Linked DNA regions of Homo sapiens. The protein of the gene in region 2 interacts with the protein of the main gene of each other region in a pairwise test. Each region holds a gene or a part of one and is shown on either strand. Other genes may lie near its edges. The genes, in order: MAPK8IP3 and SULT4A1.

Region 1 (7,560 bases), on a different chromosome or scaffold from region 2:
CTGAGGGTCTGCATCTTAGGGGGGAGGGCTGGGGCAAATCGCCACCTGTGCCTTTCCTCTGGCCCTGCTGCCCCCACACCCAACTCCGAGGGCCCACGCTGGGGAAAGCGGGAAGCGCTCGCTCCCTTTCCCCCATTAGTGCTCTCTCTGCCTGGATCCCGGCAGAAGCTATGAAAGGGAATAAAGAGAAAAGAAGTACCCAGGGTCGTGGTGTCTTTGCGCTCTGTCTTTAGGACCGGGGAGAGAAGGGCTGACGCTGTGGTCGTGGCCCTGGCCGGGGGGGCGCGGGGGGGGCGGGGTTCGGGCGGTGCGGAGCAGGGCGCCGCGTGGGTGGAACCACCTGGGCGGGTTGTGGGGGATACAGTTAGTGTCCGAGCTGCTGGAGGAGACTTGGCCTCCGCAGCTGCCCTCCGGCCCCCCACGGCTGCCGGGTTCCGGGGTGCAAGTGAAGCAGCCTCCCCGCGGAGGCCGCAGCGCCCCGACCAGGCCTCTTTAAGCGCAGGCCCCGCCCCGGGCGCCACCGCCCCGCCCCGCGGATCCCGCTCCCGCACCGCCATCATGATCTGCCTGGTGCTGACCATCTTCGCTAACCTCTTCCCCGCGGGTGAGCCGCGCGGCGCGGGCCGGGGGCGGGTGGCCGGTGCTGGGCCGGCCTGACGGCCCGTCCCCGCCTGCCCCGCAGCCTGCACCGGCGCACACGAACGCACCTTCCTGGCCGTGAAGCCGGACGGCGTGCAGCGGCGGCTGGTGGGCGAGATTGTGCGGCGCTTCGAGAGGAAGGGCTTCAAGTTGGTGGCGCTGAAGCTGGTGCAGGTGGGGGCGCGGTGAGCGAGCGGGGGCGCGGTGTGGGGGGAAGGGGAGCGGGGACCTGGGGACGCCTAGGTGCCGGGTGCGGGCGCAGGCGGCCTGACCCTTCCGCAGGCCTCCGAGGAGCTGCTGCGTGAGCACTACGCCGAGCTGCGTGAACGCCCGTTCTACGGCCGCCTTGTCAAGTATATGGCCTCCGGGCCGGTGGTGGCCATGGTGAGTATCCGGGAAGCGGGCGGGCGGCTCCGGGACCCCCACCCCCGCGTGATACCGCGCCCGTTCCTCCGCACAGGTATGGCAGGGGCTGGACGTGGTGCGCACCTCGCGGGCGCTCATCGGAGCCACGAACCCGGCCGACGCCCCGCCCGGCACCATCCGCGGGGATTTCTGCATCGAGGTTGGCAAGTAAGGCCCGCCCCGGGGACGGTCCCAGCCCCGTCCGGCCTCCCCCTGTTCAGCCTGCGTGGTACCCGTGCCGGAGGTCTCTTTCCCACGCTCACACGCGCCTCTTCCGCGCAGGAACCTGATTCACGGCAGCGACTCGGTGGAGAGTGCCCGCCGCGAGATCGCTCTCTGGTTCCGCGCAGACGAGCTCCTCTGCTGGGAGGACAGCGCTGGGCACTGGCTGTATGAGTAGCCCGGCAGATGCGCGTCACAGAGGCTCTCACACTCCAGCCTCCTCCAGGGCCCAGGTGGGCGGGCTTCTGGCCCCACCCCACAGCGCTTGGAGCATCCCTTTGGACGGGCTGCTGAACATCCACCTGTCTGGACGTTGCATGGAGGGTGGCGCAGGCCTCTCCAATCCCTGGCGTACAGGGTTTCCTGCCCGAGGAGCTGCTCCAGGAGCCTGCGCGGCTCGCCTGGAAACGTGCCAGGACACTGTCCTGGTGCCCAGCCCAACGTGGTCCAACGTTTTTTTATAATAAAGTCCTCGTTTTCGTTTCGATTTGGGCCCAGGAACAGGCAGCTACGACGTTAAGACATTTATTACATACAGAGCAGATATGTGGGTTTGCTTGCAGGGCCAAAGCCTGAGGAGAATCGTCACCCCTCCCCCAGCCGCCCCACTGCTCAGCCCGGAGTCACTTCGAGATCCTGGGGGAACAGACGAGGGAGCGGACATACATCACAGTGGAGGTGGCAGGGTGGTGGGGAGAAGCCGGCAGCGCAGCGGCTGCAGCCCTCGGTGGCCAGCGGGGCTTGTGGGGCAGCTCCCCAAGATCTGTGCTTCTCTGGTTGGGGGTGGGTGCGGGGGCTGGGCTGCCCTCATAAGGGCCTCCCAGACAGGAGTGCAGTGGGCCTGGAAGGTAGGAATAGGCCAGAGAGGCCCAGCTGGGCAGGGAGAGCAGTCCAGGGTGGCGTCTGCCCTCTGCGGGCTTGGAGTCGGCTGGGGGCGGCTCCATCCTCAGCCCCACGGGCCTCTGCTTGGTGGCCTCTCTGTTGCTCCCTGGAAGCAGGCCACAGCGGGCAACCCTAGGCACTTAGTAGCGTGTCTGGGAGCTGGGCTCCGTGGAGCCCCGTGCAGGAGGCAGGCCCCGGGAGCACATCATCCCCCATCAACCTGAGGCTGAGCCTGTGTCCTAGGACTGATCCCGGAGAGGCCAGGGGCCTCCCCTTCTTCCTGAGGCCTGGGCCTGCCCTGGCAGCCTGAGAAATCCCACCCTGGGGGCTTCTGGGAGGGACAGGACTCCAGGGCCCACTCCTCCAAGGTGAGTCTTCTGCCCAGGCAGAGCCTGGGGGGACACGGGTCAGAACGGGGCTGGCAAGAGCCTGCCTGCATGGGCAGGATGGGGTAGCAGTCTCTGTTCTCAAGCAGCTGCCCCAGGGAGCCGGGCCTCGTGCTTTTATGCCAGCTCCCTGGGCAGGGGACAGCTGGGGTGGGGACAGACAGGATAGAGGCTTGACGACGGGGAGGCCCCAGAGAAGGCCGGCTGGGGTGCAGGCACCTGGGCAGCCTGAGGCCCACCTCCCTGGGCAAAGGCTAGTGCCTGGCCCAGCTCCCCTAGGCAGAGTGAGGGCCCAGGAGGCAGGGTGGCCCCATGAGCAGCATGCAGAGGTGGGCCCAGGGCAGGCAGCCTCGGCGGCGGGGAGCCCCTGCCTCCTCCAGGGGTGCTGGGGAGTAGGAGGCCCAGGGTAGAGCCAGGACCACCTCGGATTCTGCCTGCGCTGGGCCCAAGGTGCCCTGGACTTGAGGACTCTGGGCTGGAAGCTGGCCAGGAGCTGCCCGGGAAACTGTCCCGAGAGCATCTTCCCCTCGGGTGGAAGTTCCCCTCCCCTCCTCCTCCCAGCTGATCCGCATCCCCGCACTCCCTGCCCGCTGGAGGGGCCAGACTCAGGTGAAAGCTGCAGGTTGAGAGGTTAGAAGAGGGGCGGCGGCGCCTGGCTGGCTACCCCGCGGGCCGGGCGGGGGTCAGGTGGTCGGGGGTCCTATGTACAGGTCGGGCCAGGCAGGGCAGCAGCTTCACTCGGGGGTGTAGGACACCTGCCACACGATGATGTGACTGCGCTCTGCCTTGGACAGCACGGGCTTCACCTGGCTCATGTCCCCTGCGCCCTCCTCCGTCTCGTCGTCCTCTCCGTCTCCTGCGGGCAAAGCAGCAGAGTGACGGCCAGGCTCCCCCCGCGCCCAACCTCAGCCCTGTCCCTGGGCCCCGCTCACCAATGCGGAAGTCGATGTAGCCCTCCCCGCCGCTCAGCACCAGCACGTTCCGCAGCTTCTGGCCCTCGACCTCCGAGGCAGGGGCAGCTGGCCCAGGGCCCTCGGCTGGGCTGTCCAGCACACTCCCATTCAGGGTGGCCAGCACGTTCCCTGGGATGGCAGAAGCGATTCAGGACAGCGGCCTCCTGGGGGAGGCGGCGGCCACTGGCATGCAGGGGATGTGGATGGCAGGAGGGGCCCAGCCTCACCTGGCACCGAGACAAAGAACTTCACGGCATCGCGGTGCCCATGGAAGCATAGCTGGGCCTGGGCCATGGAGCAGTAGGGGATGAAGCTGCTGGCCGCCCTGTCACTGCTGTCATCGCCATACACGTGGATGATGCCCCCGGGACGGGCGCCCTCCCCAGAGGTGGGGGATGTCTTATTGGCTGCAGGGAGAGAACCCAGAGGCGCTGAGCCCGCATACAGGTGGAGAGTGGGAGAGGCTCCCGTGAGGGGACACGAGGTGGCTGGGCTTACCTCGGAGCCCCAGGAGCTGGCCTCGGTGCAGGACCACAGCTGGGGACATGGGAGGAGCATGGGAGAAGAGGAGAGCGGTCAGCGTAGGGGCAGCAAGGCACCCTCCAAGGTGGCCCTGCAGAGCCACCCCGTGAACCCACGTACACCTCTGGCAGCACCACTGCCCCTGCAGGTGTGCAGGCCACTCACTCTCTGTCAGGGGGATGGAGATGACCACTCCGTTGCCGGTGCCCACCCAGAGCCGGCTGCCCGCGACAAGCAGGGCCGTGATGCGTACGAAGGAGAAACCCAGCTTGCCAGTGCCTGTGGGGGAGAGCGGTCAGGGTGGCTGGCCTTGAGCACCCCACCACCCCATCTGGCGTGGCCCCTCACCTAGCATCTTGCTGACGTAGGGCTCAATGTCCACGTCCTGTAGATGCTGGTGCGTGTGTGCATGGTAGAGCCTCAGGGTGGAGTCCAGGCGGATGGACACCCATACGCCATCGCCGATCCACGCCAGCTGCCGCACCTGGCTCTCCCGCCGCGGGTGGGCGTCAAATGACTTCTGTGGAGTCATGGCTGCCCATCAACAGGGCTGGGGAGAGGAGAGGAAGTGGGGAGCCCCAAACCTGCCACAGCTCCAGGGCCACCTGCAGTCCCCTCAGACCTCCCAGCCAGCGCCTGCTTTGCGCCTGTTCGAGCCTGAGTCATAGGTGGTACAGGGGAGATGGGACCCACGTAGGGCCTCGTGGACTTCCGTATGGAAGATGCGGGAGAGCTGCTGGCCAGCAGGAGCCTCTTCCCCTCCCCGGGGCCCTGGCCGGCACTCGCCTCTATCTGCATGGTCTTGGGCTGGATGACGTGCACCTTGTTCTTGTAGCCACACCACACGCGGTCGTACACAACAGCCATGCAGCGGATGGAGTGGTGCGGGTGGCCCAGGTCCATTAGGTGATAGTTGCTCAGATCCCACTGGCCATCTGGAGGGAGCCCCGGACACCTGCTCAGGCCTGGCCAGGCCCCACCTCTGCTCAGGGCATCGGGTTGAGACACCCACTGCCAGACTAAGGAGAGGCCTGGAACCCCGGGAGCCCCTTGGCTAAACAATGCCAGGGCCATCAGCTGCCACCCACACACCCCGTGCTGCCAGGCCCCACCTTCACCACGGTGGAAGATGGCCAGGGTCCCGTCCGCCAGAGCCACCAGCACACGGCCTTTGACATGCCTGAAACAGGAATGCGGTGAGCCTGGTTTGGGCCAGGCTGTGCCAGCCCCCTCCGCCCCGTTCCCCCGCGCCGCCCGGCCCTCGGTCTGGGGTCACCCACACCAGGCTCAGCACAGAATCCTTCAGCTTGATGGAGTGCAGGCACTTCTTCCAGTTGGCCACAGCCGAGTGCACATAGAGCCTAGGGAAGGAAGCGGCGATGGGCGAGGGGCTCACCCAGGACCCTCCCTCCACCTTGCCCCGGGCCCTTCCTACCAGCCGTTCTGGGCTCCCAGCCACATGGTGGGTGCAGCACTGCTGCCTGCTCCCGTGGGGTCCCCGCTGGGCTCTGGCTCTGGCCGTGTGCTGCTGCTGTCAGGCTCTGGCCCGTTCTCGCTGCAGGAAGAACGGTGGCTCCAGGGGGGGCCACGGAGCACGCACCTGCCCCAAGACCCCGAGGCCCTTCCCACCTCTGCAAGCCTTCCCTCTGCTCCTGCCCCAGCCCAAGAGCTCACCTGCCAGGCTGGGGGCCAGAGGACGGGGTCGGGGCTGGGTCAGTGAAGACGTGCTCTGTGAGAGGCCCGGGCCGCAATGTGGCTGTCTCTGGCTCGCTGGGCCCAGGGTCTGGCACCTCCGTGGCCTCTGTGGCCTCCTCTGTGGACTGGGACGGGTTGACCTTCCCGTTGGCGATGGTGGCCACCTCCCCTGTGTTAGGAGAGGTGAGCTTGGGCTGGGCAGAAACGTGGGAATGAGGGGATGGGGGAAACTCGCCCAGGACTCACCCTGCCCCTTGTCTAGCACTGGGGTGTCCCCTCGGGAGGAGCAGTTGCTCCGCGGCACGTTGCAGCGGGTGGCACAGCCCACCAGGGTGATACCGGCCAGCACGCCATCTGCGCCCGGGTCCTCTGGGTTCACGTCGCTGTCCAGGAACATCTCCCCGGGAGGGTAGTCGCTGTCGCTGGCCGCTGGGGAGAGGGACGGCCCGTCAGCCTGTGCGGGGGAACCCACTACTGCAAGGGCGTGCCCAGCACTTACACAGGGGCAGAGGAAGCCGGGGCTGGCCTTCCACTTTCCCAGCAGACCCAGCTTCCACACATGCTCCACCCACAGCCCACCCACGACCCTCTGCCTGGAGGTCTGGGACTCCAGCAAGCCTGCTCTGTTGGGTAGGCCCCTGGGCCAAGGGGAGCTGAGTAGTAAGACTCTGGTTCTGGGAGCAAACAACCTGTGATCCTGTGGCAGACCCTCAGGACCCCAGACGGCCCTGTGGTTTCACACCAGAGACCTGGCAGAGCCCTCGGCACCCCTTCGTCCTCCCAGTGTTGGGGCTGGCCCAGAACATCACCAAGGCTACTGCCCACAGGGGTGACACGAAGCTCCTCACCCACACCCCCATAGCCCCTTCGGCCCAACTGGAGGTTTCACATTCAGCATGAGGAAATGTTTTCCTGTGGTCTCCGAGTGATGCTTCAAGCTGCAGGCCGTGCCCACCCGTCACCCTCTAACCAGGTAAGCGTGGGGTCCTGAGTAGGTAGGGAGAAGAGGCCGAGGCTGCCGCGAGCTTCCTCCCAGAAACAGGGCCCAGGGCCTCACTTGACTGGGTGCTGCCCCTCCCACCGTCCACTGCCACATTCCCGTGTCCACAGGACACCCCGAGAAGGCAGCTGCTGTGTGGCAGGGCTTTTACTTAGCTTGCTAGTAAAAGGGAGTGGCGCCCGAGTGGAAACGCCCACTCCAGCTGCTCACCGGGGATGCTGGAGATGCACAGCACGTGCGCGTTGCAGACGGTGAACTGGTCCACCACCGTGCCCGGCTGGTTGGCGTCGATGATCACCACCTTGCTGGTGGTCAGGGTGCTGGTCAGGATCCACACCCGGCTGGAGGTGGCGTCCATTTCAGGGAGCTCCTTGGCCTGTTTCAGGGCACGGGATCAAGGTCAGAGCCCGAGCTTGAGGCTACCCGGTGGCAGCACAGGGCCATGGGGCTCCCAGAATCTGTCAGGATCCAGCCTTGACTACAGCTTGAGGGGACATGGCTGTCCTCCCCCAGGACCAGAACAATGCGGACTCAGGACTGCACTCTAAAGCACTCACAGACACGGTTTCGCCTCCACAGAAGAGGCCCCTGAGCTCCAAGAGGCCCAAGCTGGGCATAAAACTAAGCCTCCCACCACTGGGAGGCAAGCTCTGCCGCTCCTGGGCTCCTCTGTGCCTGCTGCCTGCCTGACCCCTGCAGCCCAGTGCAGGCCCACTCCAGGCCACCTGGGGGGTGAAAACTGAAAACCCAGAAGGCGGCTCAGTCCTGGTGAGGGAAGACACTGCTTCCCGCAGTCTAGGAGCCCCTGCGCTGCCCTGCTTCCGGGTGCTGTCCCCAGCTGTCCTGTGTCTCACTC
Region 2 (16,508 bases):
TCTGTTATTATAAATAAAAGTCAAACGTGAGGTCACACTTTCCCATCTTCTGTTTATACACCAAGTCAAACTTCTCATTCATGGAGACGGTGAAGATGTCCTTCCACAGCCCAACTCTTCCTGAAACGCAAACAAGAGAACTGCTGGGGCCACTTGCTGTCCGGCCAGCTACTGAACTAAAGGAAGCCTTGGAAATGGATCTGGAACATTCCAGATCTATTCCTGGATCCCTTTGAACTTGGCCTATGGGGGCAGGAAGGGCCGTCTGAGCTACAGACCAGGTGGTCCCCTAACATTTGTGAAACTACTGGATGCGGCAGAACATGACCTGAACCAGCTTCCCTCTGAGGCTGTGGCACAGTGAGCCACAACCACCTCCTGGTGCCATTCCACACCCCCCGCTGGGGCCCACCAGGGAGACTCTACTCCTGTTCAGTGCTGGGTCCCCAGCACCTAGAACGGCACCTGGCACGTGGCAGGTGTTTAATAAACATCCCAGGAGCGAGTATGATCTGCCGCGGGAGTGCACTGCTCTGGGCATCACAGGCAGCCCTGGCCCTTCCCACGCCATTATCCACTCACAGCTCAACAGTGCCACCAAGGCGTCATTGGCTTCGGGAGAATTTGAAAAGGAAAAAAAAATCATTCAAAGTGCAGAAAATTTTACACTAAGTAGGAAGCCCTCCTGACTGGGCCAAAGATGCAGATTTCAAGAAGCCTGCCCTGGCAAACCCTGGGGAGGAATTTAAAGTGAATCAAATAGTCGCAGCATTAGCTAGCTTTACAGACTAGATGCAAAACATGCACTGCAGTGAGAATTCCCTGAGTCAACAATAAAATGAGTCTGGGCACAGCCCCCAGCTGCTCTAGCCCAGGCTTAGTCAGAAACCCAGACCTCTTCCTGGCAGCCACAAGGGAGGGCTGAGCTGTGGGATAAACTGCAGGCACCGGTCTACGCTGGTTTATGAAGGCTTTGGAAAAACGAAAGACAGCTCAACATGACAAGAGAAGTTGTTGCTCCCATTGTCTTTGTTAATATAAAATCTTAGGTTGGTCTAGTCCAATAGCAACGGTGACCGTGAAGATGTCTGGGGCGGGGATTCCAAACTTCCCAGTTATGGGAGCTGTGAGCACATCACCCGAGTACTGCCTCCCTGCTTTTGAAGAACTGCTCGTTTAGAATTCTTTCCATTGTCAGCTCTCTGAGATCAGAGCTCTGTCTCCAGCAAATGTCCTTCACTAGCTCCGTTATTAACAGCGGTCCTTGTCCAGGCAGGACCTCAGGTTTTTCAAACTGCAACCCTGCAAATGCTGAGCTAAAATACCCAACGTAACACGGACTTTCTCTTTGGTAACAAAAAATTATCAGTGTTGGAGAGAAAAACAAGAAAAATTATTCTTGTAACCCTTTAATGATACCTAAGGGGCAAAATTAGAAGCTGCTAGAGCAACCAAACTATTTTTCCATGATTATTTTTCTCAGCTGAGACAGCTGAGAGCTCGTCAGAGGAGTCACCCACCTGGTTTAGGATTTGGAATCAAGACAATTTATGCTGTGACATGAATCAAATCTAAGCAATGCAGCTGGCTACTCGGCCCTGCATTCTCACCAACTCAAGAAGATCTTCCGAGCAAAGACGCAATGTGCTAAAAGAAAACAAATCAAAGAACTGAAATAAAGCAAAACCAAGGTAAACCATGATAAAGCAAACCCAAGGGAAGGAGCATATGGGCACACAGTATGTTCTCGACGCTGCTTCACCACACACACACACACACACACACACACGTGAACCAAAAGGGGTATTTTGGAGAAGGTCACATCCAAGGATAACAAAACACAGCAAAAGCAAAACTAAAAAAGAGCAAATAAATGTTAAATAACAAATATTTATGAAAATGCAGCCAGGAAAGAAGTCGAGAGGGACTGTGGTTCAGTTCACTTCCTCCTGAGGAGTCCACTGCTCTGCCTTTATAAGAGACGGCACTTTGCACTTGACCTTCAAACCGCCCTTAGCCGTGATCAGCCCCTTTTCAGAGAAGAACAAAAAGCCGCAGAAGCTGAAGGCCTGACCTATGTTGCGTTCCCAGAGGGCAGCAGAGCTGAGCTGGAGCCCAGCGCGTCTCTCATCCGCCCCAGGCATCTCCCACTCCATCTTGTGGGGCTGCTGCTGAACAGAGCCATCCACGTTTCTGGGCCCTCCCTGCAAACATTCTCAACCCAGGAAGTGCCCAACACACCAAGTGTCCATCAGGTTCATACTTACCAACAGGGGGCCTCCTATGGCCAAGGCCAGCACCCTGGGATTCAGGGGTTTTAGAGCCTGGGCTCTCCATCATCAAAGCCAAATGCCACACACCCTTAAGGACAGGGGGAGCAACCCAGGTGGATCTGGGGAGGATTCCTGTCAGGAACACTGTCCCCATCTCCAGCTGCCTCATGCCCACTGTCACTTGCCGCCAAGAGCAGGAACTGGCCTCCCTCTGTGCAGCGGCTTAGCTTGGTACTGTCTGCTTAAGTTCACCACCCCGAAGTGGGGCTAGGCCTCACCTGTGCTGCCTGCACCCAGAAGATGCTCAGTCAGCGTCCACTCAGTGAAGGAAGAAAAACGGTGTCTCCTAACTTCCCGCCCACTTCATTTAACTCTCCCACAAGTCAGTTAGAGACTGAGAAACCCATCAGCATGCTTTGCGCTTTGACATGTCATAGCACCAAACCCAGTCCCTGGATCTGCTCTGTGGGGCGTTTGATTTCAGGCCATCTGAGTAGACTCCCTGCTGAGAAACATCCCGCCCACAAAGCCTGAAATGCACTTTTTCAAGTCAAAACACTGTTTGCTTGGAGGCAATGCAAACACCAGCGGGCAGGGTACTCCGTCACTCCATGAGCACTGTGCCATCCATGGGCACCAGCTAACAGAGCACAGGCCATGGGCCAGCTACAGACTGCTGTAAAAGGAGAGCAGGGAGGGCAACAGGGACCGGACTCGGCTCCCTAAGCAGGCAGAGAAAGCAGCCTGGCTGGGGTGGGGAGTGCCTGGGCGGGAGGCAGGGTGGGGCACGTACCCCGGCCCACGGGCAGGGCCTCAGCGTTGCAGCACTGGTCCACCAGCTGGTGGCAGTGCTCCGTCAGGGCTTCCAGCTGGGCCTTGTCACAGGACACCCCCAGGAATCTGGCCAGCTGCTCCACCATCGTCACCAGGTCCTGGAAGACAAGTGCAGAGAGCAGAGCAGCCCATCAGAGGCGGGGCCTTTTACTGGACACGACCCCAGGCTGGGCACACGCTGAGGACTTTTTACACACGGCCTTCCTTACTTAATGCTCACAAGGCTGACATCAGCCTTGTCCAGAAATAACACTAAGAGGTTAAGAAATCGCCCAAGTGTGCTCAGCTCTCACGTGGAGATCTTGAATTCAAACCCTGGTCCTCCAGGGAATTGGGTTGCAGACATGAGGTCTTAATAGAGGTGTGGTTAAGTTTTAACAGGAGCAAGAAGTAAAAAACATATTTCAGAACATGGTTCTTGTGAGGAGCAAGACCTAATGGGCTCCTCTTTCCCTTCCTGCTGCCTGTCAGCTGGCGTCTGGGCTGGCCCTTGGGAGCGCAGGGAGGCCCCTCTGGTCTCCAGATGGCCCTGCACTGGGCAGGGAGCCCGCTTCATCACAGGCAAGATTCCGTCATGCCTGCCATACCCTGCCCCATTATTTTACCACGCCTGACAGCGGAATGTCACTGATGTGGCTAACCGTCTTGAGGGGGCCATTCCCCAGCCCCCCACCCCTGCCACTTTCTCCCCAAGAGATGAGGCTCCTCGTCTTCTCAATCACAGCCCTGAGCTGTCACCTAGAGGTGCCTTGGTCCCATTAGGAAGATGCTGGAGGCTGTTTCCTCTCTGGAAGGTTTGTAAAGCAAATTCCCGCATTAAAGCCTCTAAAAAGTCCTACAGTGAAAAGATGATTTAATTTCTTTATTGCAGCACTTCGGAAACCTTAAAAGACAATGTTCTCTGACCGCTGGTGTGGGAGTCAGCTGGTGTGGGCGCCAGCTCCTCCCTGGGTCCCCACAGTGCGCTGACTCCTGCAGCAGCGGTTGCAGGTCTGATTCTGGCCTCGCACTGCCTTCCACAGGCAGGGGTGTGGTGCATCCCGGGCGCAGGGCTTGACTCAAGAGTCAGAGGAACAGTTATTAGAGAATGAGCCAAGGAATACAGAGCTCCCTTTCCCTTGCCCTGCCACCAAGAACTCCATTTCAAAGAAAAAGGGTAGCAATGGAGAAAGAGTGAAGAAACCTGGCTCTCAGAAGAGATGCCGCAAGAAGGACACAGCTGGCTTAAAGTCAGCCTGCTGGAGCGTTCAGCAGAATCCTCGTGGGGCAGCTCACTGCGGCGTGACGTCCATCTCAGAGGAAGGGGCGTTTCTGCCAGGCTACATCCAGCAACATGTCACAGGACACTTGCTGGTTATGAAACCCAGCAGGGATCAGGCAGAACGCCCAGGTCAGCTGGCAGGAACGGCCCACTTCACCTCTCTGAGCCACACATTCCCCATCTGGAACTAGCGACAGGGCCGCAGCAAGAGGCCGCACACCACGGCACGGAGCCAGCGTGTTGGGGTCGTGCCTCCACATGGGCAGGTACTAGCTGGCCACACGGTTGCAGTCAGGGCACCCCGTGACTGGTGAGAACACCCTGCAAGATGACTGAGGATGAAGTGGGAATATACCCGGGGTGCCTGGCACAGTGCCCGGCTCGTGGGAAAGGGCCACTGTAATTGCGGTGCAGTGGAGCGCAGGCAGTGAGCGCTCTGGCAGGAAGCATTCCCTCTCAACCCCAGGGTGAGAACACATGGACCCACACCACAGTCCTGGAGACAACCATGCTCACTCGGGGCTAGTTTTCTGGAGTAAGATGTAAACAATATTAATTCCTAAAAATGTGACTTGACCTCCATTAAAACAAGCCATTACTGAGGTTCCTAAAAAAAGAATAAACCCATGCCAATTAGAAGGCGAAACGCTGACTGTCCCAGGGATGCCATTGAGTCACAGACCGGCTTTGATAGAAAATGAAGTCCCAGCACTGACCCCGGCAGCTCTTAAAGTTCCAGGCAGGGCTGGTGGCCTTGACCCTGACGGACTGAAAGCAACAGGTCTGACCACTTTCACTGGGGAGCCTGGAAGGCAGAGAAGGATGAACTTCCCTTTAAGGGCTTGGAGTAAAGTGTGTGTTTGGACCTTAAAACTTCAGTCCATCATTGCTGAGGAAACTGAAGCTCCAGGAAGAAACTGCTGACCCGGCAGCTGCCCCCGAGATGTGTGGGCAGCTGGCCAGCTGGGCGCTTTCCCTATTCACCTTCTCATGTTGGGGCCTCAGTGGCCCTGGGCAGTGCATGTTCAATGCTATGTCATTGGTGGCAAAATAGTGACCAGCTGACAAATGCACACCCAGGACCCCAGAAATTCCACTCCTGGGTATGGGCCCGATAAGCACAAGTGCTGACGTCCACCAAGACTCCAGAACGTCCACGGAGGCTTTATTCATGACCACCCCAAAGTGAAAATGGCCTCCACGCCCGGCAACACTGGATGGATGAAGCGGTGGCACATTCGTGCTGCAACGGAGCACCGACCACAGCACAGGAAAGAACAGAGCTCCGCGCCACGCAGGTGGAGGAGCCTCGCCATCTGCGCAGAAGCCAGACAGCAAAACCCATGCGAGTTCCACACCTGACAGGTTCCAAAGAGGCAACGCCAAGCTCCGGTGAGGGAGATGAAACCGCGGTGGCCTCTGGGAAGCAGGGGTATCAACTGCAAGAAGCTGGAATGTTCTGGATCTGGAAGGTGGCTGCCCAGATGTGACAGGTAAAAGGCTGTCAAGCCCCACGTGTGTGCCAAGTACACCTCACTGTGCATGACACCACCACAAAAAGGTACACACCAGGCGGGCCCGTGCCAGGCCTGCACGTAGGTGATGCTCACACAGTCCTCCCAGCCACACAGTGACGGGGGTGCTGTCACCTCCCCACTTTACAGAGGCTTGGGGTGGTCAGGACTTTGGCCTGAGCAGCCAGCATCCAGAGCCCACGTTGTTCCCCAGCACCACAGGAAACCACGGCCGACGGCTTCACAGAGGTCAGCGGCAGGACCAGGGTTCCAACCTGCTTGGGCTACACCTTCATCTCTACCACACCGTCCTCTGGGCGTGAGCAGGGACCCTAAATGTGGCTCTGTGTCAAGTTGTGTGGACAAGAGGCAGACAGGTGGAGGCCCATGTAGAGTCAGACAGGCTCACCCAGCAGTCGGCTCCATGGCGCGTGTGACCTTAGACCGCCACATGACCTTGCTCTTTCCTCACCATAACACAGAGCCATGGTGAGGACCCATGTGGGGAACCGACAGCATGCGCCAGCCGGCAGCAGACCTGCAGACGGGGTCCTTCCTGCACATCGAGCAAGCCCCGAAAGGCCACGCTCCTGCGAAGGCCGACCTGGCCCGTGCTGACCACAGGCCCCAGTGTGTGAGCACAAAGCAACCCAAGAACAACTGCAGGAAACGCAAGGCACACCCCCACACCCCAGGATCACAGTGCACACACCCCCACCCCGGGGCTACAACGCACACACCCCCACCCCAGGATCACAGTGCACACACCACCCGCCCCAGGGCCACAACAAACACCCCACCACCCCAGGGCCACAAGGCACAGCCCCCACCCCAGCGCCATAGGGGACCTCGTGTGGCTCTGTTCACAGCCAGGTCTGGCGTCTTCCTGCAGGTGTGGGGAAAGTACAAGGCTGGCCTTCCTACCCCTGGGCTTTCTGACCTCCAACTCCAGCACTGGCTCACCCTCCCCAGCACCCAGCTCTCCTGTCTGTCTCCCAGCAGACCTCCTCCCCATCCCAGCTCCCACCCACTGCTACTCAACCTAAACCTGCTTGTCTGTCAGCCACTGACACTAGCAGCCCCACAGGCTGGCCTTGTCTGTCCCCTACATCGACATGGTTTCCAGCTGGCACTCAGGCCTCTGCCCCACAGGAGCAACCTCACAGTCCACATCTGCACCCCATCGTCTCTCCTCTTTCCCATGGGCCAGGCCACAGGTGTCTCCTGCCTGTCCTGCCCCTGCCACCAGAAGCCCCTCTGCCTAGGCTCCAGCCCCAAGCCCTGCCTCTGCCTGGACTAAGACCTTGTCCCATTAGTTCTTTTCAACCCCTCCCCCAGCTCCTGCTTTCTCCCAACACCTAGAAAATGCTCAGTCTCTTCTGTGGTGACCCAGGCTCCCCAAGCTACCAGCTGCCTCGTGTCTCACTGCAGACAGTGGCCTCTCCTCAACGTCCCATCAACCACCACTGTAAAGCACTCCAAAGGCCCCCTGATAAGCCAAGCCCCAGTCCCCTCCCCACACCCGCCTTCCTGGGTCCCTCAGCCTCGCACGGCATGGCTGCCCTGCCACACCTCAGGCTTTGACAGGCTGCTCCCCACACCCCCAAGCCCCCTTCCAGCCCACAGACTGTCCCGCCCCCTCCTCTGTCCCTCCTCAGACCCCTCCTCCTCCTCCCACACGCCCACTGTAAAGGGCTCCTGCGTCAGGAGCTGCCAGGCCGAGGGCCAGGGCACCCGGAGGACAGCTGCTCCGGCAGCACTCACCCGATGCATGTCTTCATACTTGAGAAAAAGCACGTTCGAGTCCATGCGGTGCTCCCAGAACTCCTGCACGTGCTCAAACCAGGAGCCGTAGCCCACTGCGGAGACAGGGGACAGGGTGAGCCACACGGCTGGGCAGGAGAAGCGCACACATGGGGCCATCCCCACCCCACAGGGCTGCCCTCCTGCCACCCAGCAGCCGTGATGAGGACATCGTGATCCCTGCGGACAAGTCTGGCAAAGGCCCCCGAGGCACTCACGTCTTGAGCCATCCCAGCCCTCCCGCCTTCGGCACGCCTTGAAGGCCTGACCATGGGGGTGACAGCCTCTGAGAAGGTGGTCCCTGTGGTACCTGGCAGTGGACCGCAACAGTGCCCGTTACTTTATCCGCTTAACAAGTGGTCACCAGGAAGCCCTGGAACAAAGCCCAGAAGAACTGGGACAGGGGCCGCTAGGGTTGCTAGTGGGGACAGGGTGGGGTATAGGAAGCTGTAGGACAGATCCAGAACACGGGGCCCTGCTGGGCAAGAGGGCGACAGGCAGTAGCCTCAGTAAATCGAGGAACTCTCCATGGGACCTGAAAGCTGAAGACGGGCAGGGAGTCCTGTCCTGACCTCCAAGAGGCCGGCACTCCCGCACCCACACCGCGGCCCTGTGCTTCCCGCGCCCCCACCGCGTCCCTGTGCTTCCCGCGCCCCCACCGCGGCCCTGAGCTTCCCGCGCCCCCACCGCGGCCCTGAGCTTCCCGCGCCCCCACCGCTGCCCTGAGCTTCCCGCAGCCACACCGCGGCCCTGTGCTTCCCGCGCCCCCACCGCGTCCCTGTGCTTCCCGCGCCCCCACCGCGGCCCTGAGCTTCCCACGCCCCCACCGCGGCCCTGAGCTTCCCGCGCCCCCACCGCTGCCCTGAGCTTCCCGCAGCCACACCGCGGCCCTGAGCTTCCCGCGCCCCCACCGCGTCCCTGTGCTTCCCGCGCCCCCACCGCGTCCCTGTGCTTCCCGCGCCCCCACCGCGGCCCTGAGCTTCCCGCGCCCCCACCGCGGCCCTGAGCTTCCCGCGCCCCCACCGCTGCCCTGAGCTTCCCGCACCCACACCGCGTCCCTGTGCTTCCCGCGCCCCCACCGCGTCCCTGTGCTTCCCGCGCCCCCACCGCGGCCCTGAGCTTCCCGCGCCCCCACCGCTGCCCTGAGCTTCCCGCAGCCACACCGCGGCCCTGAGCTTCCCGCGCCCCCACCGCGTCCCTGTGCTTCCCGCGCCCCCACCGCGTCCCTGTGCTTCCCGCGCCCCCACCGCGGCCCTGAGCTTCCCGCGCCCCCACCGCGGCCCTGAGCTTCCCGCGCCCCCACCGCTGCCCTGAGCTTCCCGCACCCACACCGCGGCCCTGTGCTTCCCGCGCCCCCACCGCGTCCCTGTGCTTCCCGCGCCCCCACCGCGGCCCTGAGCTTCCCGCGCCCCCACCGCTGCCCTGAGCTTCCCGCAGCCACACCGCAGCCCTGAGCTTCCCGCGCCCCCACCGCAGCCCTGAGCTTCCTGCGTGGCCTGCGCTGCCTCAGAGCCCTTGGTGTGGGGTGGGGCACACAGGCAGGGACCAACTCATGGAGTCTCCAGCCTGCTTTGCAGTGTTCTTTATAAAAGCTATGGATCCTCCCCTGCCTGCCACATGCCGTGCCCACCACTGTGACGGTTTCTTCCACGGGGACCTCCATACGACAGAGAGCAAGGCGTCAGTTAAGGATCACTGGGCAGTCGGGGGCTGGCGGTGCTAAGCAGCAGGAAGCAGCCCAGCTGGATGAGGAGCGCTGGCTGTAGAGACTCCTCTGCTGGGCCCTGCCACCCGGCAGGATTCCCACGGAGGAGCTGCACCCACATCCCACCAAAACCTCCAATTTCTGCAGAATAAAGCTGAGTCCCAGAGAAGGGAAGAGACTTGCCCAAGTCACCAACAGGTCAATAATCATGGGGGCCCAGACAGGGAAGCCCAAGTGGCCCGACTGCAGCCCATCATCGGTAGCTAAGTCCAAGCAGATGAGTCCCTGGGGCAGAAGGAAGAGTCAAATGGCCCTGTGAACACGGAAGGTAAAGAAAAACCCCACTTCATTCCAAGGAAGCATGTAGCAAGATGTCAAAAACAGACATCCCGGTGACATGGAGTTGCAGGGGGAAATAGTGTGAGGACTCTGGAAGGAGCAAGGCATGAAGGACTGCACGTGTGGTCCTGCGCTGATGTGAGGAGCAAGTGCACGGAGTCCCCACAGCAGGAGGGGGGACGGGAATGAGCTGTAGGTTGCTGGGTGGAGAGCCTTCCCACCGGAATGCCTGAGAGGAGGCGAGGACGCCGGGCCCCTCCACGCTTTTCCCTGGGCTCCACGCTGCTCTGTGAAAGGGAAGGGAATCATCCATCTGGAATATGAAGGAAGAATAACAAAACCTCACTGTCCACCCCAGAGAAGACACGGTCACAGAGGCTGCATGCCACACTGCGGGTGCCACAGGGAGCCTGTCTACACAGCGTCCTCACACTGCAGGTGCCACAGGGACCCTGTCTACACAGCGTCCTCCGACTGCAGGTGCCACAGGGACCCTGTCCACACAGCGTCCTCCAACTGCAGGTGCCACAGGGAGCCTGTCTACACAGCGTCCTCCAACTGCAGGTGCCACAGGGACCCTGTCTACACAGCGTCCTCACACTGCAGGTGCCACAGGGACCCTGTCTACACAGCGTCCTCCAACTGCAGGTGCCACAGGGACCCTGTCTACACAGCGTCCTCACACTGCAGGTGCCACAGGGACCCTGTCTACACAGCGTCCTCACACTGCAGGTGCCACAGGGATCCTGTCTACACAGCGTCCTCCAACTGCAGGTGCCACAGGGAGCCTGCCTACACAGCGTCCTCACACTGCAGGTGCCACAGGGATCCTGTCTACACAGCGTCCTCCAACTGCAGGTGCCACAGGGACCCTGTCTACACAGCGTCCTCACACTGCAGGTGCCACAGGGATCCTGTCTACACAGCGTCCTCCAACTGCAGGTGCCACAGGGAGCCTGTCTACACATCAAACTGAAGGCTCCACAGGGACCCAGTCTACACAGCATCCTCACACTGCAGGTGCCACAGGGACCCTGTCTACACAGCGTCCTCACACTGCAGGTGCCACAGGGACCCAGTCTACACAGCGTCCTCACACTGCAGGTGCCACAGGGACCCAGCCTACACAGCGTCCTGACACTGCAGGTGCCACAGGGAGCCTGTCTACACAGCGTCCGCACACTGCAGGTGTCACAGGAAGCCTGTCACGGGGCATCCTCACACTGCAGGTGTCACCTGCCTCCAGGGCCCTTTGCCCTCCAGCCTCGCAGAGCTGGTCACCAGGCTCACGCGTGGTTGTTTATGCAGGACCCTCCTGCTGTTGCCCTGTGCTGTGGCCTCTGATCCTGGCCTGTCTGGACATGGTGTGCTTTCAGGGTTCCCGTGCATATTAGTTTCCACCGTCTTCAGGACATCAGGGAGGGGGTCCAGCGGTCCTCAGTATGTGCGTGCTCACTGAGTGACAATGAAGGACGGAGCACAGGGGTGCTGAGTGGGCCTGTCTACAGGGTTTGCTGGGACCAAGGCACGTGTGTGGGACCTTGCACTCAGTGGAGGATGGGTCTGTGACTGTGGTGACATGGAGAGGCCTATATTAAGAGAACTGTTAACTGCTCTGGCCTGAGCAAGATGTTTGTAGCCTCTTCCACGTGCTGGTCTGAATGTGGGTGTTGTCCCCATGCTCTGCAGAGAGCAGAGTCCATGCTGGACCCTAGGAAACAGCTTCAGAAGTCCATGAGTGGGTTGCTCCAAATGCCTGGTGGACCACAAGAGCAGGTGCCAGGGCCAAGAGGCCATGGGAAGAGGGGCTGGACAGAAGGCCCAGAGCAGGCTCAGGGGGCTTCAGGGTGCGGTCTGGGGCCTCCTACCCCTTGCAGGCAGGGCCACTTCTCAGCAGGCACAGTGGAAGCAGAGGCTCAAGGGCAGGAAACAGAATCATCCCAGGGCTTTGAGGCCCTCGTGGGTTTTCAAACTGCAAGCAACAGAGTCAGCCTGTGGCGCCCTGCACCGCCCCGCCAAGAGGTCCCCTTCAACCAGGCCTGGCAGCAGCTCTAGGTCCACTGCCCTAAGTTCCACTTAAACTCGAGGGCATTACGTTCCAGGATCTCTGCTACATGATTCATCCTCATCCTGTCACATAAGCCCCCTGCAGAGCCCCCGATAAGCCACACTGAACAATGCGGCTCAGCATCACTTCCGTTGGGAAATAAAACAGAAAGTGTATTTTCAGCCTTGGGTAGGGAAGAGTCTCAGTGTAGATTTAATTAAAGTGCAGCTATTATGACACATTTCAAAGCTCCTCTGCCTGCACACCCTACACTGCCCACTTTCTGTCCCAGGACCTCCCAAAGCCATGGCTGGCCATGGGGAGCCCCCTCAGGAAGGCAGGAACAGAACTGCACTGAGGAGCTCTGCCACCACTCCCAAGGGAAAGGTGGCCCAGCGGGGCAAGAGAGTAAGGACTGGGAGCGAGTGGGACCAAGACAAGAGGCCTGGTCCCGCCTTCCTTGAGAGCAGGGCAGGGTGGAACCCAGCCTCGCTCCTCCTCAGGGGCTGGAATGGAAGCCAGAGAACAGCACATGGCACTCTCGGCCCGGCTGTCCTCCTCCCTGCGGGCACAAGTGTGCCCTGCCCCGGAGGCTTGCCTGTGCCTGAGGTTCAGCCCGGCTGTCCTCCTCCCAGCGGGCACAAGTGTGCCCTGCCCCAGTAGCTTGCCTGTGCCTGAGGTTCAGCCAAAGGCCCATGCCTGTCACACTTAGCTCCAGTCTCCACTCCAGGCCCTATCACTAACAGTAGTGATACCTGGGCCTCCATTTTTACTGTTTTCATTCTCTCCCTGTTTGAAACCCAGGTAGGAAGGATGGATGTTTTAACTGGGGAACTTCTCAGACACCCCGACAGTGTGGTAGAAGAGAAGGGCTCTGGGTTCAGATGGACCTGCTCTGACACACACCAGCTCTAGGATCTCGGCCACGTTCACGACCCTCGGCCTCAGTGTCTTCATCTGTAAAGTGACCGCGGGCCTGACCTACATGGTCACTGTCAGAACTGGAGACCGTGTCGGGGAAGCACCCAGCACCTGCCAGGCCGTCCACGACAACAGACGGCTCCGGTTCTAACATGCCGCCAGGCTGCAACACTCACGCTTATCATTCATAAACCTCCGGCAGAATTCTTGAAAGGTGCCTCGGTAGCTCATGGTCCGCAGAGAGCGGTGGAACTGATAATAAGACACCACCAGATCCTTGGGGTTGCGAGCCATATAGATGACCTGTGGGTGACAGGAGCAGGATGAGTCCGTGTCTCCTTCCCTCCCAGGCAGGGCTGCCCCGACACAGGCCAGCCTCCCTGAACCTGCTGGTGCACCTCACAAACCAACACCTGCTTCCAGCGTCCAGCTGGGGCCCATGTGCACGGCTGCTGGGTGCTGCTGCTTCGCTGTTTCAGCAGAAAGGTGCCCTGTCCATGCAGTAGAGCTGGCCAGGAAAATTACTTGAGCATTTTATTTCTGTCCTCTAGAACTACTTTAAAATCTGCAGAAGACAAAAAACTTACAACCCTGATCCTGGTGGTAAGAACACAGGCCTCTGGCCGGGTGCGGTGGCTCGCATCTGTAATCCCAGCACTTTGGGAGGCCGAGGTGGGTAGATCACCTGAGGTCAGTAGTTCAAGACCAGCCTGACCAACATGGTGAAACCCTGTCTCTACCAAAAATAGAAAAATTAGCCGGGTGTGGTGGCACATGCCTGTAGTCCCAGCTACTCAGGAGGCTGAGGCAGGAGAATCGCTTGAACCAGGGAGGCAGAGGTTGCAGTGAGCCATGCCACTGCACTCCAGCCTGGGCGACAGACTAAGACTCCGTCTCAAAAACAAAAAAACAAACAAACAAAAAAACCCCACAGGCCTTGGCATTTGATGCAATTGAAAAACAAAGAGAATTCGGCCCAAAGCAGGTACACGCCTGCTGGCCTGCTTTGGATTAGGCTGGCCACAGCCATGTTTGACTGTGAGGTAAAAACCAACCCGTCGTTAAAAACTTGGGTAAAATGCTAGAGACGCATGACCCAAGACCACCTCAGAAGGGATCTTCACGTGTGGGCTCCTTGGGAAGACAGCCCCCAAGGCCAGGTAAGTGCCAGGGACCTGCATGTGTATTGCACAGGGACCTTGGGCTCCTCTTGGTGGGGACTCATCTCGGGAGGCAGAGGAGGTGCCAGCTTACCTTGGAGTCTCCATTGTGGAGGTCAGAGGGCAGAAAGCGGTAGGGCAGGTGGCTCTTGATGAGGCGGGGAGAGGTCAGTTCCTGCGTGGAGTCAGAGGGAGAGGCAGGTCAGAGGAAAGGGTGAGACCAAGGGGAGGAGTGGGGCCAAGGGGAAGGGGGCCAGAGGAGGAAGGAAGGGGTGGGGTTCAGGGGAAGTGGAGTTATCAGAGGGAACGGCGGGTCTAGGGTAGCGGAGGGGTCAGGAGAGCGTCAGGTAAGAGGGAGGGGTGAGGCCAGAGGGAGGGGTAAGGCCAGGAGCAGGGGGACCAGAGGACGAGGGAAGGGGTGGGGGCCAGGGGAGAACGGTAGGGGTCAGAGGGAAAGGTGAGGCCAGGAGTAGGGAGGGGTCAGAGCAAGAGGAGGCAAGGCTGTCATGCCCTGGTCTCCTGTCCTGGAGAGAGTCTCGGACCCAGCCAGGACAGCCTCCCTTGTCACCTGAGACAAAGATTGGAGACATGAGCACACCCCGGCTGGACCCTGGCGGTAGAGACAAGGGTCCTTGACTTTGGCCTGGGGAGTCCACCCATCATAGCCACAGCCACAGGATCTGCTCAGGGGGCCTGGGAGCTACTGCCCCGGCTTGGAGTGGCGTCGGAGGGCAGCAGAGGCAGCAGGAGGCACCAGCCCCAGTGGGTGCTGCCAGGCTGGCGCTGGACCGCACAGCAACCTGGCCTGATGCGCTCACTGCTTCCACCTGCCCCTCGGGCCTTCCCATCAGCAGCCAGGGTTGTCCTGTAAAGCAGCCAGCACCGTGCTCTCTGCTCAGAGCCCGTCTTCCCAGCTGCCCTAGGAATGGGCCCAGCCCTCATGAAGCCAAAGAGCCCGGAACCGTTGCCTGCAACCCCCAGGCTTGCCTACTGCTCTGGAAGGCCAGGCCCCTCGTGCCGTGGGGTCTTTGCTCACGGGTCCCTCTGCTCCTCTCCTCTTTCAGGACCTGCCTCAGACATCCCCAGAGGAGACTGCTGGTCCCCCCCTGATCTGCTCCCCTCCCAGCGCTGATCGCTGGCTAGCTACTATGGCTTCCTGGGCTGAAAGGCCGGGCCTGATGCTGTCAGTCACTGCTGCCCCCAATGCCAAGAGCAGTGCCTTGAACGCGGTGGCCCTCGGCACGGCAGTACGGAACGACTCCCAGATGGTTCCGCACGGACAAGGAGAGCAAAATGGCCGTTCAGGCCCGAGAGGCTGGGGTGCAGACAGGGGCCCTGGAGGGCCACAGGGGTCTTGTGCCATGGGGAGGGATGGCACTCTCAGAGCATGACACAGGGTGGGATGGCACTCTCAGAGCTGGGTTTTGGAATGCTGCTCCAGAGGGAGGAGGACAGGTGTGGTGGAGGCTGCAGTTCTGGCCCATTCAGGTGTGAGGCTGGAACTAAAGAGGTGCAGCGGACGGGGTGGGGGTGCCTGTGGGTGTGTCTGAGGGGTGCGGGGAGCAGGGCTCTGGGGTAACATTTATTCATTCTTGATACCAAATATTTGATGCAAACACATCCTACCCAGCTCCCTCAGAGGAGGGCCCCCAGGGGAAAGCGAGGGGGAGGCCCAGGGCCTGCTCCCCACAAATGGCCCCTCAGCCCTGTGCCCCCCAGGCATTGACTTCCTTTCCACTTCACAGACTCCCTGACGCTGATGTGTCACCCACGCCCTCATCGGGTTCCAGGTCACTGCCAGCTCAGGCCTGCCAGCTTCTCCCCTGGCTATCTGGGGCTATCTGCTCTCCCCTAATCCACAGAGCCCCCAGGAGCAACTGTCAATCATCAGGGTGTAACGGTAGAAATACCCTAAAGAGGTGCTGGGACAGGTGCTGCTGGCCCTGGGTACCTTGATGATGTCCAGGCCCGGCTGTGGGTACTCCAGGACCGGGAGCTGCTCGTCGATGTTCATCAAGCCGATCTCATCGGGGTCAGCGCCCTGGCTCACCAAGTAGACCACCTCCTGCAGCAAGCTGGTGCCTGGAGGGGAGAAGCCCCAGCGCGGGGTGCTCAGAGGAGGCCCACGCGCCCGGCCCTGTGCTCGGGTCAACACCTGCTGCCCAAGAAGGGGCTCAAGAGCCCCAGGTGGGGCCCAGGGCGACTGAGTCTGGGAAGAGGAGCGCGCCCCGCACGGTCTCAGCCTGAATCCCCCGTGCTGGGTCATGGGCCAGTCGGCTCTGATTCTCAGAGGGGCCAGGATGCTTCACAGGGCTGTTAGGAGAACAGAACAGAACAGAACCCAGCCCCTGTTATGGAAGTGGCTCAGGGGCTGTAACAGGTGGGTGACTCGGCCCAACCTGAGGCTGAACTTGGCAGTTTACGCAGGAATGATGGGTCGGGGGAATGACCCGCTAGCCAAGATGAGGAAATGACGTCTGCCCAGTATCTACTGAAGCTATATACACATAGCCCATGATCCAGGAACTATCCTGGGGAGACACCCAAGGGAAGCCAGTGCTTGTCCACCAGTACGCAGGTTCTAGAACAGTCTTGGCCACATCATTCATAAAGTCACTTGGAAACACAAATACCCATCAGCAATAGAATGA

What was found.
Region 1: the proteins of SULT4A1 (region 2) and MAPK8IP3 interact in binary tests that used the Homo sapiens proteins (3 or more experiments, as listed by UniProt).

The regions. Positions count from the first base shown.
Region 1 is NC_000016.10:1,764,533-1,772,092, reverse strand, and holds the end of MAPK8IP3 (C-Jun-amino-terminal kinase-interacting protein 3), read right to left. Parts: intron 7,081-7,560; coding exon 6,915-7,080; intron 6,134-6,914; coding exon 5,951-6,133; intron 5,874-5,950; coding exon 5,684-5,873; intron 5,565-5,683; coding exon 5,445-5,564; intron 5,371-5,444; coding exon 5,290-5,370; intron 5,190-5,289; coding exon 5,122-5,189; intron 4,945-5,121; coding exon 4,796-4,944; intron 4,530-4,795; coding exon 4,358-4,529; intron 4,289-4,357; coding exon 4,175-4,288; intron 4,025-4,174; coding exon 3,986-4,024; intron 3,895-3,985; coding exon 3,715-3,894; intron 3,617-3,714; coding exon 3,467-3,616; intron 3,391-3,466; coding exon 3,269-3,390; 3' UTR 1,742-3,268; downstream 1-1,741. Other genes in the region: NME3 (nucleoside diphosphate kinase 3), read left to right, coding at 559-604, 683-824, 922-1,023, 1,100-1,204, 1,327-1,444.
Region 2 is NC_000022.11:43,825,994-43,842,501, forward strand, and holds part of SULT4A1 (sulfotransferase 4A1), read right to left. Parts: intron 15,940-16,508; coding exon 15,809-15,939; intron 14,033-15,808; coding exon 13,952-14,032; intron 13,001-13,951; coding exon 12,874-13,000; intron 10,043-12,873; coding exon of another isoform or gene 10,035-10,042; exon of another isoform or gene 9,103-10,034; intron 7,742-9,102; coding exon 7,647-7,741; intron 3,206-7,646; coding exon 3,067-3,205; intron 1,648-3,066; coding exon of another isoform or gene 1,607-1,647; exon of another isoform or gene 1,521-1,606; intron 121-1,520; coding exon 8-120; 3' UTR 1-7. UniProt on the Homo sapiens protein: Atypical sulfotransferase family member with very low affinity for 3'-phospho-5'-adenylyl sulfate (PAPS) and very low catalytic activity towards L-triiodothyronine, thyroxine, estrone, p-nitrophenol, 2-naphthylamine, and 2-beta-naphthol.